Homo sapiens: one gene and its partners. The protein of the gene in region 1 purifies or fractionates together with the protein of each later gene. This does not show direct contact. Each region holds a gene or a part of one and is shown on either strand. Other genes may lie near its edges. The genes, in order: XKR4, SDK2 and QNG1.

Region 1 (3,648 bases):
GTAACACCAAAGAAAGTTTTGCCAATAATTTACTTTAATATTATTTTAATATAAATACAATTAAAACTTTCAACCAACTTGTTTTTCTGAAAAATGACTCTCCCATTATGATGGGTCTATTTATATGTCCCAATGACATCCAAACTCAAAGCCTGTGAAGCCAATAGATTTCCATGAATGACAGAGACATGACTGAGTCAGAGATGAATAATGACATAGCCTCTGAAGCTTTCAACTTTCTGCCATTCCTTTGAATAAAACAGTGTTTTAACACTTTTCTTAACAGTCCTCACCCCCTATAATCCTTCATGACTCCTTCATGCCTTCAAAATACAATCTAAATTCCTTTCATTATCTGGCCCAACTAGTTCTTCATCTCATCTCTAGCTACTCTCCCTCCCTCACTCCATATGTAGAGCATGCACTTAACCTGCCTTGTTCTTTCTTGCCTCTCTGCCTTTACACATTGCATCCAGGGCTCTAAAGTCAATGTCCCACTTTACTCAGAAAGCAGATTTTTCTCATCCCTCAAACCTTTGCTCAGATATCCCCTCTTCCAGAGAGTCTTACCTGAACCATCAAGGCAGTTTGCGTTTCCTGTTTCTATCGTGCTTATTTTCTTCTATTGAGATGGTCTACTGACTTTTCTGTCTTCCCTATTAGAGAGTAGATTCCTTGAAATATATATATGTTATTCATCTTGGAATAATTAGTAACAAGCACAGTGCCTTGCACATAGCAGGTGCTCAGTGTGTGTTGAATGACTAATTAATTTATATGTATAGAGAGGAAACACATATATGCAGAAAATAACCATTTGATAAACTCAGCAAATGGCACCAATCTTGCCTAATCTATATCAGAATTCAGGACTAACTCAGAATTGAAGACCACCTTTTTTAATAGTCAAAGGTGTAACCTATATCCTCCTTAGTTTTTCTACCCATTCTTTATCTCTAGAACCTCTTTATCATTTGTAATTAACTTTTCACATATTCACATACATTATGCCATGTAATCATTAAAACTACTACGAGATCATGTTCCTTAGCTGGGATTTAATAAAACAACCTCAGTATGTCCAAATGGTATAGTAAGTTAGGCAATGAACTGGGAGTTCAAAGAGCTAAGCTCAAGTCTCTGTTTTACTGTTTAACTACCAGTGTGTTATTGGAAAGATCCCCTAATCCATCTAAACTGCAGCTCCCTTTCCCACTTTGCCATCCACAGTGAAGGTAAATTGTTATTTTTATACATTGTTGTCATCATTATCCAAGTTGGCATTTGGAGGTAGCCAGTTCAGCCAGAAAAAGCATAGACTGTATGGTAAAATGGGCCCCGTTTTTAATCCTAACTACACTACATAATAGTTGGGTGACCCTATTAAGAGGTTAAGCCGCTTACTTAACCTCTCTGAGACAGTTGTCTCACATATACAGATACTAATAATTTTCTTTTAGGTTATTTTAAAATGTAGATGACATAAAAAGTAGAAAAAAACATTTGTATATTTTTAAAGTGCCAATAAAATTGTTATTATTTTTGTTTGGCCAGTTTTAAGAATGGCATATTTATCCAAGTGCTTTGCATGCATCATTATAAGAATGTTTAATAGATGTGACTTTAAAAACTTAACTGATAACTGTACCTTAGCTTATAAAAGGCTCTGAGAAGTCCTGCTGTAGAGAGAGCTGTTTAACTTTGTTTAATCTGTCATTTTCCCAACTTATTTGAACATGGGACACAATCAGTGCCTTCTGGAATAGCAAGCATGACAAGAGCAGAAAAAACTGCATTTTCCTCACATTTTTCCCAGATGACTCTCATGATGGAGACTCAAAAACAAAACCCAGAAGAGTAAGAATAGTGAAAATGCTCCCCACTCTACCATCCACTGACTCATTATTTACAATGTGCATATTTTCTGGAAAATAATTAACTATGTACATACATACATAGGAGAAATTCAGGTAGAGTTTTAAGAGTAAACTTCATAATTTCTGAAGGAAAAAGACATTTGGAGGCAATTGATCAAAAGCATGAGGACTAAAAACTGTTCTCTTAGGGAATTTGTGATTCCCACTGGCTAAACTGCACTCTTAGTAATTTCTGGAATCATATGAGAAAAATAAGAAAGGAAAGTACTTTCGCATTCATTCACAGGCACAGTTCCTTTAAAGTCATAATTGCTCTTTTCACATGGTAGCAAAAATTCACTTTATTATTTCAAATAGCTCTTTCCCAAGCTCACCTCCTGCGACTTTAAAAGCTGCCATTAATTTCCCATTAGTAAACTTTAATTAAAATGAATATGTATCATTGCTTTTAGCAGTTGCATTGTAACATATGTATAAATACATGCAAATCTTACCCACAATGTTTCAATGGCTATTTCTAAACAAGCAAATGCTTTGATGTTATTTCAAAAGACTGTATTTAGAGAAAGCTTTTAGAATCTGGTCCTTCCCTAAAATAATTAGAATTTCATGGAAACACAAGAAGCAGTTACCAACCTAGCTAAAATCTATTTTATTGATCCCAGAAAGTAGCATGTTAAAACATGAATAATGACCTCTGTGCTTTGAACCACTCAGTACTCTGGTGTTTCTGCAATATTTGTGTATAATGTATTGAAAAGAAAAGCTAGAAGAGGCACAGGGATGCTTCTAATTTAAGGAATCATAGTGAGTCTAATAGAAAAATCTGAGATGAGTTGCACTTCGTCGGCTTATTAGCAAAGATGCGTCTACTCCCCCAAAGTTCCACATGAATGTTCAACACTCAGAGAAATAGAAACATATTAGAGCGCATCTGAGTGTTAAGTTCCATAAGCTTTCTTATCCCTTTCCAACTTCCTACATTAGGCTAAAGTTTTGTTTTTTTGAAAAATATACTTCATAAACAGAAAATGATGCTGATTAGTCTTAGATCACGCTTTCACCAGATTACTCTGGCATCCCCCAAATATTTTAATCAGAATCTGAGAATAGTTAGATTAGATGATAATTCAAACTTATCTACTACACACATTATTCTGAAAATGTTGACAAATATTTCCAGAATATTATATCTGATAATATTTCCAACTACAATATTCCTCCTAGATGATCATGCATTATCAGTATTAACTTTAAAGCCTCTAAGGAAAATACTATAGAAATGCTTAACTAAAAGGAGCCATGTGTGACCACAGTTTCTCCAAGTCTGGGTCAGTTAATACATTTGTCTGACAGCCTGCGGTTTTCTTTCTACATTCAAACCTTACCCTTCCATCCCTTCTCTCCCCGCCCCCACTCCCTACCTCTGAAATAACTTTTCTGTATGATAAGTTGGCCCAGTGGCTATGGTCTCTCTGACATGTTTTTAGGCTCATATCTTTTCCTAATTATTTCTCACATTCTGTATATTATTCCCCTAGAAAATTAAGAATCATTTTTCAATTGGGGAGATGTTTGGTTTAGAAGGTATAGTAAACACAACTATAATTAAAAGGACTTCCTCGGTTCACAGAATTTAATATCAGATTTTTCATAAAGAATCAATCTGTAAAAAAAATTACAGTTTTTCAGTTAACAGGATAGAGAAGTATTTGAATTATTTACATAAGTCTAGAAACTTGAAAGGTGGTTAAAATTAAGTGATTTCCAA
Region 2 (4,313 bases), on another chromosome or scaffold:
AGAAGCCTGTTAACCCCAGCTGAGCTTCGTGGAGTAGGCGCTAGCTCTGGGCCACAGCAGAGGACGCCTCCGGGCTCTCTTGTTTGAATTCCTCCACCAATGTCCGGTTCTTCTACTCTTTACAAGCTGGGCTCCGAAGGAAAAAAGAAGAAACAAAGAACGCACGCTCCTTGGCACCAACTTCACTTTCTCAGGCTTCTGCAGGTCCCAGGCCTCCCGATGTCTCCCCCTCCGCCCTGAGCATTTCCAGACCTTGGAGAGCCTGACTTGGGAAGGGGAAACTGGAATCAATCGGTTGACCGACCCCCTTTTCCCAACCGCCGCCTCCCCACCAATCACTCCATGTCCGGAAGGGGGCTGGGGGCTCCCGACTATAGGAGACTCTGGGAGTCCTATGAGGCCTTTGAGACAGGGGCGCGAGCGAGGCTGGAAGGAAAGGCTGGGCAGAGAGCGGAGGGGCTCGCGCGCATCTCTCCCGGCGCGGCAGAAGGTTGGCACTGCTGCCCCCCTGCGGGTCCCAGAGCCGCTGGGCGCCCGCGGCCGCGCAGTCGGATTGTATTTCTGCGGGGCTCGCTCCCGGGCCTGGCTCGGGGCCGCCGCCGCCGCCGCCGCCCCTCCCGGCGCGCAGGCTGCTCTCCAGTCGCGGCCACGGGGTAGCGCTCGGCCCCCCTCTCCGCGTCTCCGCCTCCGCCGCGCTCGTCCCCGGCTCACGCTGCCCCCGCAGCTCCGGCTCGGCGCAGGCAGGAGCGGCTCTCTGGACGCCGAGCCCGGGAAGCGGAGGGCGGCGGGCTCGGCGAGCGGCAGCGGCGGCCGAGGCGCTGGGGCGGCCGTTGCTCCTCCGGCCCGGGAGGTCGGCGATCGCCGGGCGTCCGAAGGGGCGCCGCGTCCCCGGAGCCGGGGCTGCCCGCCGGGCTCTCCGTGCGTCTTCCCGAGAGCTCCGGCCGGGGCGCGGCGGAGGGCAGAGCCGCCGGTCTCCATCCTCGGGCCGGCAGGAGGCTCTGCGCCCGGGCGCCGGCGACAGCCCGCGTCGCGAAGCCCAGCACCCTCCCCCGCCGCCCCGCGGCTGGCGCGGACATGGGCGCTCAGGGCTGCGCGCCCGGCTCCGGGACCCGCAAAGTTTGCTAGCCGGCTGGGCGCGGAGCCGAGGGCGCGCCCGGCCCCAGCGCCCCCGGAGGAGACCCGGCGTCTCCCGATTCGGCGCGAGGGCGGTGGAGCCCAGAGGGGGTGGTTCGGCCCCGCCAGATGCTGCCTGCAAAGTTAGAGAGAAGAAAACTTCAGCTCCAGGGAGATTCGGACCGCTATGCTCACCGCGTCCCCCGAAACCGGCGCCCCTAAAAGAACCCCCGCACCCGCGTCTGCCACTGCGCTCGGCTCTGGCCGGGTCCCGGGGGCCCGGCGCCTGGAACGGCGGTGACTGCGTCGGCCGGGAGAACCCAACCAGGGGGCGGGGAGGGGGCGGGCAACGTGGCCACGGGAGGAAGTTTCCTGAAGTTGTCCATTTATTCCGGAGCTCGGCCGGCGACCCGGCCGGATCGCAGAGGCCGCCCTGTTTGGGAGAAGTCGGAGTTGGGGTGCTAAGGGAGAGAGGCGCCCTAGTCCGAGAGGGCGGCCTGGCCTCTTTCTCCCTGCTCGCCCCTCGCCTTCCGGGCGCGCTGCCGGGCTCGGACTAGTACAGAAGAGGAGGAAGGGTTGGGGTAGCCAAGCGCTGCCCCTCCCGGGCATATTACACCCCGGGGCACGGAGCCGCGTAGACTGACTGTTTCCTGGGACTAAGCCACGGGGTATCGGACCCCACCAGGATTATAAAACAGGGCGGAGGGAAGGGAGACCCCGAGGACCCCTCTCCAGGCTGGTCACCATGTGGGGGCTTTTGATCTGGACACTGCTAGCTCTGCATCAGATCCGCGCGGCCAGAGCCCAAGGTAAGGAGGGACCCCCACGTGGGGACAGGGAGGGGGCTGGGAGAGTGGGCGGGGGAGGGGCGGCGGGAGCTGGCCGGCCTCACGGTGACCTCCTGGACACCCGGCTTAGCCGTGGCAGAGCCCTCTCCAGGGAGTTTCAAGACACCCCATCTCCCAAGTTTTGGGGCTCTTTTGGGGGTGGGGCAGTCTCTCCGAGACTTGTGGCTTCCGAATGGGGGAAGGTGGGGACGACCTGGGGAGGCAGAGAAGAGCCCAAGGTGAAGTGGGAGGGGCGCTCCCCTCCCCCCGTCTGCTGTGGCTGCCCTGCGCCGGCTTGGGAGGGGAGCGACATTCCGTGCCGGGCTCCACGCTCGGCTACGCTGAGCTTCCCAGACCGAGCTCCTGGTTCCCTGCTCGGTGTCTGCGGGGAAGGGCAGGGCCCCTGCCGGGCAGGCGATGGCCTCCCCGGGGCGAGGGAGTGGGGTGGGCGAGCGCTGGATGCCGGGTTGCTCGCCCGGGGAGAGCAATTGCCCGGCTTGGCCACGTACGGGAGCCCGCCCCTGGCTGCTCGGCCAGCCGCTGGGGCTGGGGGTGCTTCGCTGCGCGGGCCTGGAGCCAAGGTCGCGGGTGCAGCCGCGGACCCACCGGGGGGTGGTGCACAGGGAGGGTCTGAGGCCTCCCCTCCTACCCATCCACCCACACCCAGCATCCCCGCCCCTGCCTCCAGCCTCCGCTGTTCGCTCGATAGTCTGTGCAGCCGCTCGCTGCTGTGACCTGTGGCTGCCGGGAGCAGCCTCGCGGTGGAGAAGGGCTGGTGGCTTTGGGTTTGGGAGTGCTACGAAGGATCCGAGGTGTGATCTGCGCTGCCCGCTTCCTGAGGGTGGATGCCCAGACGTCCCCCTGGTCCCCGGGCAGGTCCCCGAGGTGAAGGGCGGCTGCACCGGCGGTTCCTCGACTTTGGGGTTCGCCGATCCAGACAGTGGTGTCAGCGGTGTCCGAGCGGCGCCTGCTGGGGGCGGAGGGAGACGAAGCCTGGACCGAGCTCCAGGACTCGCAGGGCTAGGCCTTCACTCTCGCAGGCTCAGGAGGGGGCCAGACCCACCCTAGGGGTCCGGACTGTGGGGGCTGCAACCCACTCCCCACGCCGCCTCGTGCGCCAGGCAATCCAGAGAGCCAAGATCAAAGAGATGAAAATAATCAGCTCTCACTCACAGGGCTGAGGGGAGGATTTTACGAGGTAATTTACATAAAAGCACTTCGAAATTTTGTAACGAGCCCTATAAATGTAGGGTAATAAAAGTTATTATTTTTATGATCATCATAAAATCTTTGAACAAGCGAGGACCTCAGAGGTCATCTTATTCTAGTAGCCATTTAACAGATAGGGAAACTGAGGCCAAATGGCATTAAATGACTTGCCCAAGGCCACTCTGTGATCTGGGGGCAGAGGCAGGTCTGGAACCAGATGAGTTCTGAGCCTCTCTCCCTCAAACCAGGACTAGCTGCATGGGGTCTCCTTGGTCTGGGCCCCCTCTCTGAGGGGTCCCAGGAGGACCCTGATGCTGGCAGAATAGGAATGGGTTGTCCTTCATCCTGGAGCAGCCTCACAGTTGTGCTCTGGGACAACCAGTGTTACTAGCCAAAAGCCTGGACGGCGTGGAGGGACGGGATGCCAGCATCTGTCTGGACCCTTCTAACTTCATTGCTCTACAGACTTTTCAACAATGGTATGATTTCCCTGGGCAGGTGGCTCACCAATTCTTGTCTCATCTAGGACCAGGCCCTTATAGAGTCCCCAGGGCACCTGATGGCCCTTGCTTTGGGGTCTTCATGTGTCCCTTCCTGCCCCACGTCCACACCTGTGCCATCCACTTGAGGCCAAGATCCCACCCCTCCTGCTGAAGTTAAGGCCAGGTGGCCCCCTGTCCCTGCGCCTCCTGCGGGAGGGGCTTCCCTGTCAGAAGCAGAGAAAGTCTCTGTGATTGATTCACTTCCTCTCTGCCTTTCTTGTTTGCTGGCTTTTTGCGTGTCAGGCTGCCCAGGTCCCCTGCTGCTCCGCTCGTGTTCTCTGGCTCCGAGAGTGTTTTCCAGCATCGAGCCCTCTCCTGCTGTGTGTGTCCCTGGAGGCAAGCCTTGCAAAGGATTGTGGGAACGTGGTCCTAGGCTTGGCAGTGCTGGGTTTGAGTGTTGGAGGGGGTGGGATTAGGGCATGAGGTCCTTTCTTATCTGCTTTGGGGTTAGAGAGTGAGTTTTTTCCAGTCTCAGGCCATGACATTAATCCTTTGGGGGGTAGCTGAAGCCACTAGCACTGTCATTTCTGAGCCCACAAGCCTGCTTCTCCAGGCATGGCACAGAACGAGGGACGAAACAATTGTTCCTCCCTTGAGACAAACTTCACATCGACCACTGTCA
Region 3 (3,648 bases), on another chromosome or scaffold:
TCATTTTGTTGGACCCTCACAGGCTGCACCCGGATTTTGTTTTTGTAAAATTCTTTTGGAATCTTTTGAACCTGGGAGGGGGAGGTTGCAGTGAGCCGAGATTACGCCACCGCACTCCAGCCTGGGTGACAGAGCTGGACTCCATCTCAAAAAAATAAAAGAAAAAATAAAAGAAATTGGCTTGGCGTGGTGGCTCACACCTGTAATCCCAGCACTTTGGGGGGCCAAGGCGGGTAGATCACAAGGTCAGGAGTTCAAGACCAGCCTGGCCAACGTGGTGAAACCCCGTCTCTACTAAAAATATAAAAATTAGCCGGGTGTGGTGGTGGGTGCCTGTAATCCCAGCTACTCAGGAGGCTGAGGCAGGAGAACCACTTGAACCCAGGAGCTGAAGGTTGCAGTGAGCTGAGATCATGCCACTGCACTCCAGCCTGGACGACAAGAGCAAGACTCTATCTCAAGAAAAAAAAAAAAAAAGAATTCAATTGTATTAGTGTGTTCTCACACTGCTATAAAGAACTGCATTTCATTTATAGCACAGTGCTTTGGTTTTGCTTTGCTGAAAAGTTCAATTTTTAAAAAATGTACCAGAAAGTGGCAGTATCTTGGCTCACTACAACCTCCACCTCCTGGGTTCAAATGATTCTCCTGCCTCAGTCTCCCAAGTAGCTGGGATTACAGGCATCCGCCACCATGCCCAGCTAATTTTGTATTTTTAGTAGAAACAGGGTTTCACCATGTTGGCCAGGCTGGTCTTGAACTCCTGACCTCAAGTGATCTGCCTACCTCAGCTTCCCAAAGTGCTGGGATTACAGGCTTGAGCCACCATGCCCAGCCAATCTGATACTTTTTTTTTTTTTTTTTGAGACAGAGTCTCACTCTGTCACCCAGGCTGTAGTGCGGTGACACCATCTCTGCTCACTGCAACCTCCGCCTCCCAGGTTCAAGCGGTTCTCTGCCTCCGAGTAGCTGGGATTCCAGGCACCCACTACCACGCACAGCTAATTTTTGTTTTTTTTTTTTTTTTTTCAGACGGAGTCTTGCTCTGTCACCCAGGCTGGAGTGCAGTGGCGCGATCTCAGCTCACTGCAAGCTCCGCCTCCTGGGTTGACGCCATTCTCCTGCCTCAGCCTCCCTCGTAGCTGGGACTACAGGTGCCCGCCACCACGCGCGGCTAATTTTTTTGTATTTTTAGTAGAGACAGGGTTTCACCGTGTTAGCCAGGATGGTCTTGATCTCCTGACCTGGTGATCCGCCCGCCTCAGCCTCAAAAGTGCTGGGATTACAGGCGTGAGCCACCGCACCTGGCCTAATTTTTGTATTTTTAGTAGAGACAGGGTTTCACCATATTGGCCAGGCTGATCTTGAACTCCTGACCCTGTGATCCACCCACCTTGGCCTCCCAAAGTTCTGGGATTACAGGCGTGAGCCACAGCGCCTGACCTAATCTGATACATTTTTAAATGAAAATTGGTACAGAAACCATTTCTCATGAGTACTTGTTTCTAACATACAGTTTTACAGAAAAATCCCCAAAATGGGCCAGGCATGGTGGCTCAAGCCCATAATCCCAACACATTGGGTGGCTGAGGTAAGAGGATTGCTTGAGCCCAGGAGGTCGAGACCAGCCTGGACAACACGTGAGACTCCATTTCTACAAAAAATTTAAAAACTAGCCAGGCGTGGTGGCATGCCTGTGGTTCTAGCTACTCAGGAGGCTGAGGCAGGAGGATCGCTTGAGCCCAGGAGGTGGAGGCTGCAGTGAGCTCTGATAGTTCCACTTTACTCCAGCCTGGAAGAGCAAGACCTTGTCCCCAAAAAAATAAATAAATAAAAATAAACAATTTGCACAAACTAGTCATGTGTTTTTAACGTATACCTATTTACTGAGATTATCATTCATTTTTAGACATGAACAGATTAATAAAGTTAACAATTTTTAATTTAGATAGATTTAGATCAGTGATTTCCCAACCTGGCTGTGCCCCAGAATCACTTAGGAGGCTTAATTCAGATATATTTCCAAAACACCACCCTCAAAGAGCCTGATGAATAGGTGAAAGAAGAGCTATTTTTTAAGCTCTTCAAGTTACTCTGATTTAGAGTAATGCAGTAACTTTGTAAAAGTTCTAATTAGCAAATTGGCTTTCTTATGACTATTACTGTTACTGTGACATACTGATAAATATAAAAAACATAAGCTTTTTGATATTTCAATAGATAACATTTTATTTTTTATTTTTAGTTTTTTTGTTGTTGTTTTTTGAGACAGAGTCTCGCTGTCACCCAGGCTGCAGTGCAATGGCGCAATCTCGGCTCACTGCAACCTCTGCCTCCCGGGTTCTAGTGATTCTCCTGCCTCAGCCTCCTGAGTTAGCTGGGATTAGAGGTGCGCACCACCACGCCAGGCTAATTTTTGTATATTAGTAGAGATGGGGTTTTACCATGTTGGCCAGGCTGGTCTCGAACTCCTGACCTCAGGTGATCCACCCGCCTTGGCCTCCCAAAGTGTTGGGATTACAGGCGTGAGCCACCATGCCAGCCTTTGTTTTTTGTTTTTTGTTTTTTGAGATGGAGTCTTGCTGGCGTGCAATGGCACAATCTCAGTTCACTGCAACCTCCGCCTCCCAAGTTGAAGCGATTCTCCCACCTCAGCTCCCGAGTAGCTGGGATTACAGGCACCCGCCATCATGCCTGGTCAATTTTTATATTTTTGTAGAGGCAGGGTTTCACCATGTTGACCAGGCTGGTCTTGAACTCCTGACTTCGGGTGATCTGCCCACCTCGGCCTCCCTCCCAAAGTGCTGGGATTACAGGCATGAGCTACCGCACTTGGCCTATGTTGTTCTTAACTTTTGTAATCCTTGAACTTTCTATTTATTCATGATAAAATTATGGAATAATTTTTTCAAAAAACTTAACTGTCCAGGTGCGATGGCTCTTTCCTGTAATCCTAGAACCTTGGGAGGCCAAGGTGGGTGGATCACTTGAGCCCAGGAGTTCAAGACCAGCCTAGGCAACATGGGGAAACCTCATCTCTGCAAAATAACAAGAAAATTAACTGGCCTTGGTGGTGAACACCTATAGTCCCAGCTATTCAGGAGGCTGAGGTGGGAGGATTGCTTGAGCCCAAGGAGGTCAAGGCAGCAGTGAGCCGTGATTGAGCCACTGAATTGAGCTACAGCCTAGGCAGCAGTGAGGCCCTGTCTCAAAAAAAAAAAAAAAAAGAAAAGAAAAGAAAAAAATTAACTCATGGTCATAGAGCTTTTTATTGACAATTATTTTATAAAGGTACGATTTAGAAAATATTTAAATCACAAAACAATATCATGAAACATGTAAGCAATTGTTATTTGGAGATTTACTAGTAGTTTTAGTGATACCAGTTAATATTTTAGAGATCCAGAATTTGATTACAAAAATCATTTGATTTCTAAAACCATAATGAGCTTACCAAGAAAATGTTTTATAGAGATGGCCAGGCGTGGTGGCTCATACCTGTAATCCTTGCACTTTGGGAGGCCGAGGCAGGTGGATCACAAGGTCAGGAGTTCAAGACCAGCCTGGCACACGTGGTGAAACCCCGTCTCTACTAAAAATACAAAAATTAGCCAGGCGTGTTGGCGCCCATCTGTAATCCCAGCTACT

What was found.
Region 2: the proteins of XKR4 (region 1) and SDK2 purify together in Homo sapiens (affinity purification with mass spectrometry; one large-scale study listed by BioGRID and IntAct). This does not show direct contact.
Region 3: the proteins of XKR4 (region 1) and QNG1 purify together in Homo sapiens (affinity purification with mass spectrometry; one large-scale study listed by BioGRID and IntAct). This does not show direct contact.

Annotation. Positions count from the first base shown.
Region 1 is NC_000008.11:55,105,002-55,108,649, reverse strand, and holds part of XKR4 (XK-related protein 4), read right to left. Parts: intron 1-3,648.
Region 2 is NC_000017.11:73,641,634-73,645,946, reverse strand, and holds the start of SDK2 (protein sidekick-2 precursor), read left to right. Parts: upstream 1-1,501; 5' UTR 1,502-1,858; coding exon 1,859-1,922; intron 1,923-4,313.
Region 3 is NC_000009.12:83,950,176-83,953,823, reverse strand, and holds part of QNG1 (queuosine 5'-phosphate N-glycosylase/hydrolase), read left to right. Parts: exon of another isoform or gene 1-172; intron 173-3,648.